2 separate regions of the Homo sapiens genome follow, and region 2 is linked to region 1. The links come from fine-mapping of genetic effects on gene expression. Tissue or cell type: whole blood. Region 1 holds a variant in brackets; the other region holds the start of a gene. All regions are shown on one strand. Distances are from middle to middle.

Region 1 (2,757 bases):
TCTGTATATAAAATCATTAACCACACATTGTGGGTGATGGGAAGACGATTTCAGCTGACAGAGTTAATGGCAACCAATAATGGTGGCCTGTAGCTGCTAAGAGCTTCACGCAGGTTTGGCCTGGGCTTTCACTGTTGGTGAATTTAGAGTGTCCTTTTAGGTGGGGCGGCTATTCTAAAAGTGTCTTTCTATCACTGTTAAGGGGGGGGGAAAGTGAGGTTCGAGGATGACGTAGGTAACTCTCCCCTCCCAAGTCCATGTTCCAAGTGGCTATGTAAAGCAAGATGATACAGAAAGCTGCTCTAAAATCTCACTGAGTGATTTCACCTTCGCCTACTATGAAATGTCTCATCAGACCTGACATGTCTGAGATAACCAAGGTGATTCAGGATTTGATCAAAAGAAGTCTAGTAAGAATTAATTACACAGAAGCCTCCTTTCATTTCTATGGGCCAAACAAAGGCCATGGATAACCCTACCCGCTTTATGTCATTACCCATTGGGAAACACAATGGCTACTTCTGTTAGGGTACATTGACCTTGGTCAAGCATCTTAAAGAAGGCAACCCTAATTGAGAGCTGTCTTGGCTAATACTCTGCACCACAATTGTGATGTCCTAGTCCTACCACTAGAGGGCATGGTACAGCCTGGCAAAAGTTAAAAGGGGTGTGGCAGCTCCCATCAGGTCTGGAGGTGGTCTATAAGCACAGTTGACAGTTGTGCATTGGGATGGGTGGAGAAAGACGACAAGAGAGCAGAGAATCTGCTGATGTGGCTGCGCTTACTTTTAGTGACTTTATGTACTTATATTAACAGCTGGAAATAGGTTGTTGGGTTTTGAGCAGGCTGTTATAGTGAGGAATGTTCATTTTTAAATGTTCCTAACAGATTTTGCTTTTGAAAAATGCTTGTTACATGAATAATTTGTGGACCAGGGATTGCTTTTCTGAAGGCAGTATAGGGAACATGAATATTCAAGATGAAATACAAAAATTATGTTTAAGGGTCATAGTGTATAAGTAGCTTCCTAGGAAACCCTTTGTGTATCTTTTCAGACTGGGGTGGGGGCTGAGCATGCTTGTGCAGAAAGAAGCCATAGCCAGAAAGGACAGAATCTCTCCCCCACTCCCTTGCCCCATAACCAAACATAAGCTAGCTAGTCTTGTCTAATAGATGGGATTTACTATAGGTGAAGATAGCCCTCATATTCAAGGACAGAAGCTCTGGCAGGAGTAAATTAGCAAAGCAGAAATAGTACCCTTTCATTCTTGGAGGTGCTTTGAAATTTTAGGTAGAATATAATCGAAATTATGGAGGTTCCTTAGTGCTCAATAATATAAGACCTGGTGTTATTAGAACGAGTCTTTCTTATAAACTAACAGAGCAGGTATATGCCTGTTAGACCTTAGCTGTGGGGTTCCTTTACTATTGGGTGAATCATTAGGTATAAAAAATAATCATCAACCAGGCAAATTACTTTGCTTCCTAGCTGATGTCATCCCACATTGGTACAGGTGTTATTCAGTACTGGGTGGTTCAGCAGGGAAGCCGGGTGGGACCAGTGTGTCTGTCATGAAACCACTAACTGCATTCCTGACTGAAGAGCCATCTGTCATTTATTGGGGAAGGTCTTCAGTTGAGCTCTCAGCCTTAG[G/T]AAGGAAGCACGTGGAGGAGGGACGGAGGAGGTTCCCTTGCTGGGCATGCTTCGTAGAGGGCCAGGAGCAGCAGGTCATGTGCACATGCCGTTGCAGCACAAGCTTATGCTTCCCGTAGCCGTGGCTTTTCATTCTGCACAGTCCCAGGTCCCAGCTCCCCTCTTATGGTTTCTGTCATAATGTGCTTTATCTGATTGACTCCAAACATCCCGAAATGTCACCTGCAGATTTCTCGTGGGAACCAATATGTACATGTTTGCAATTATGCTGTGAGAATTTAAATGTGTTAGATGGAAAATGCTATTGGCAGGGAATAATAATAAAAAAAAAAGAAAATCATTCTGTTTCCTGCAGTGGGAACTGGCCATGTAGTCTTAACAGTCTTTTGTACAAATATCTACAAAGCAGATAATATCCCTATCCAGTGCTTGCCCTTGGAATTGTCTCTAAATGCATCAAGCATACAATAAAAAAAACTGAAATTAACATCCAGTGGAGTGGCCTCTTCTGTTTTGTGTCTCGTGAATAAACGTGGGCCTCAGTCGCAATATAGAAAATGTATGAGAATGGATATATTTTTCTGGCTAGAATCTTTAGAAAACAGTCAGTTCAGCAGTTTCTTGCATCATGTAATGTTCTGTGGATAAATTCAGTCTTTAAATATAAAACCACAACGAAATATCACCTCACACCCGTCAGGATAGCTACTATTGAAAACAAAAACAACAACAACAACAAAAAACCACAACCAGAAAATAACAAATGTGGGTGAGGATGTGGAGAAATTGGAACCCTTATGTACTGTTGGTGGGAATGTAAAACAGTGCATCCATTGTGGGAAACAGTATGGAGTTGCTCAAAAAATGAAAAACAGAACTGCTGTATAATCGGGCAATCCCACTTCTGGGTATACACAAAAGAATTGAAAGTAGGGTCTGGAAGAGAGGTTGCACACCCATGTTCATAGTAGCACTATTCACAGTGCTAAAATCTGGAAGCAACTCAAATATCCACAGATGGAAGAATGGAGAAACAAAATGTGTTCTATCCATACAATGGAATATTATTCATCCTTAAAAAGTGGAAGCAGATTCTGACATG
Region 2 (2,628 bases), 69 kb before region 1:
GCATGGAAAAAAGTCTCCTTCTCTCCCCAGCACCCAGTCTCCCAGTTCTGCTCCCTGGTGGCATCTATTACAGGTTCTTACGTACTCTTCCAAAGATACTCTGTGCATTTACAAAAATAAGTACAGACATACATATATATTTTCTTCCCACAAATAACACACACAACGTTCTGCACCTAGCTTTTTATTTTTCTTTAGTTAGTATAGGTTGGAAATAGTTTTGTATTAGCAAATAAAGATCATTCTCCTTTTTAAAGGAAGCTGGATAGTAGAGGCAGGCGGATTGCCTAAGCTCAGGAGTTTGAGACCGGCCTGGGCAACATGGTGAAACCCCATCTCTACTAAAAATCAAAAAAAATTAGCGAGGCTGGTGGCGTGGGTCTGTAGTCTCAGCCACTTGGGAGGCTGAGGCACGAGAATCGCTTGAACCCGGGAGGCGGGAGGCGGGAGGCGGGAGGCAGGAGGCGGAGTTTGCAGTGAGCCGAGATCCTGCCACTGCATTCCAGACTGGGCGACAAAGCAAGACTCAAAATGTTTTGATTTTTGTTAATCTGGCTGGTGGAAGATGCTACCCCACATATTTGATTTGCAGTTAAGTGAGCCTGAATATCTTTTCGTGTGCCAGGATAGAATTGCATTTATTTTCCTCTGAATTACGTCTTCATATCTTTTGAGATAGTCTTTTCTTATTTACTTATAAAAGATGGAGTTGACGCTGGCATCAACACACACACACACACACACACACAGACACACAACACACAAGTCCCTGTACATAACTTTATTAACCCAGATATGGAATCTTGGCTTAGTTACGTGCTGTGTGACCTTGGGCAAGTTACTTAACCTCTCTAGGCCACAATGTCCAAGTACCTGGGACAGGGTCTGGCTTACCAACATGGTACAGGACGGCACTTTTAAAACCAGGGACTCGACTTGGACGTGCGAGTCAACAAGGTACAGGACACATTTCTCTCCGGGGAAATCTTGTGTGGGCGCCGAGGCCCGGACGTAGCAACCAAACGTCGGGAAGAGGCGCCAAAAGGATGCTGGGCCTGGCTCCTTGAAGCCCGGGTTTTCCCTTTTGAGAGCCACAACCAAGAAATAAAAATCTAGCAAAGAGGGGGCCACTTTCTGCGGCGAGATACGCCCTCTCGGCCGCTCCTCCAGCTCCCAGGCCCCCTCCCTACTCGACGGTGAGCAGCGCCGCGGCCCGTGCAGCCAGACGCGCGGGGTGCGGCGGGGCCCCGGGGGCCGGGGTGGGGGAGGCGGAGGGTGGGCCCGCGGTCACGTGAGTCGGGCCAGCTGCTGCGGGGGGCGGCGGGCCCCAGCGCCGGGAGTCTGGGTAGGGGGAAGCGCCCGGCGGCCGCCTCCGCCACTGCAGCTGCAGCCCCCGAGGTCGCCGCAGTAATCCGGACCCGGCAGCACCCGCACCCTCGGCGGCCGCAGCCTCAGCACCGCAGAGCGGAGAGCGGAGCCCGGAGCCCGCCGCCCCAGGTGAGCCGCGTCTGGGAGCGCAGGGCGTTTGCAGCGCTGCTTTCCCGGCGGTTTCACCCCACCCGCCATCGCCACCTCCTGCGTTTCATCTCCTCCCGCTGTCCCTCCGAACCCGCGGGTAGCGTTACCCCAGGCCGATTCCCGGTGCTGGCCCGGGCGGGCTGGGAGCCTGGGGGCGGTCAGAGGAGAGGTGGCCTCGGCCTGAAGCCGGGGTGACTCGGCTCGGGGACTGCGGGGGTGCAGTGGAGGGATGCCGGCCCCGGGCTCCCGCACCGCAGCCGGGTTCCCCGCGCTGCTCTTCCTGGGTTTCCTTTTCCTGGCAGCCAACCTGCTGCCCACTGGGATGTGCCTGTGGGCCCCTGGCCTCGCCACCCTGGGGTCTGGGGCGAGCCGGGCACCTTCCCCGAGGTGCCGTACCTGCTGCGCGGGCGGGCGCCGCGAACATGGCTGCCCGGAGACGCCCGCCGCCTTCGGCCCGGCTCTGCCAGCGCGTCCAACTCGCCCGCGGCCGCCGCACCGTGTCCCGGAGCAGCCCTCCCCGCTAGGCCGACGCGCGCGGGCCGCCCCTGGGTTCTCCGCGGGCCGCGCGTGGGACTTGACACAACTTCCCTCGAGCCGCACCCGGGCGTTCTCCGCGGGGCGCCGGGCGGGGCTGCCGAGAGGCCGGCTTGGTCGGCCTCTGCCTCCTCGGCTCGCTCTTGAGGCGTCGAGTATTTGGCGACCTCACTCGCGAGGGCCGAGAGAAATGTGGTCTGCAAAGCAGGAGGGGCGCTTGAACTTTAGAGAATTGGCGAGAACTCGGATTTGGGAATAAAAATGTCCATGAAAACATCGAAGGAAACTGTTACCTGCTTTGACTCAAAGCTGACCTTGTAGGGTTCTGTTAAATAACGTGGCTTTTCTGGATTTTCTGTCTGATTCTAGCATGCAAGTCCTTGACTTACGCTTGCGTCCGGCAGCCGGGTGGGGTGGGTGCGTGCGTGTGTGTGTGCGCGTGTGCGCGTGTTGTGTTCCCAGCCTGGTTAGAAGATGCATCAGTTGCGGAGGAAACCTATGCTAATTCAAAATGGCAGCATGAAAAATAGGCCAGGCGGAAGCAGCACAGACCACAACCATCAGCTGCCCCCTGAC

What was found. PIP is the estimated chance that this variant, and not a neighbour inherited with it, causes the effect.
Region 2: it holds the start of SCRN1, and the variant in region 1 is fine-mapped to the expression of SCRN1 in whole blood (INTERVAL, PIP 0.97).

Annotation. Positions count from the first base shown.
Region 1 is chr7:29,919,494-29,922,250 of GRCh38, reverse strand. It overlaps SCRN1 (secernin 1), which reads left to right. Exons shown (of 8, transcript NM_014766.5): 8 at 1-2,142. Among named protein-coding and RNA genes, the nearest start is that of FKBP14-AS1, 68 kb to the left of the region's middle. The variant G/T (reference allele first, on the strand shown) is at 1,656.
Region 2 is chr7:29,988,511-29,991,138 of GRCh38, reverse strand. It overlaps SCRN1 (secernin 1), which reads left to right and starts at 1,338. Exons shown (of 8, transcript NM_014766.5): 1 at 1,338-1,497. FKBP14-AS1 (FKBP14 antisense RNA 1) reads right to left here and starts at 2,483. Exons shown (of 3, transcript NR_187577.1): 1 at 2,346-2,483. RefSeq lists silencers at 1,212-1,551, 1,572-1,621, 1,632-1,901, 1,992-2,111.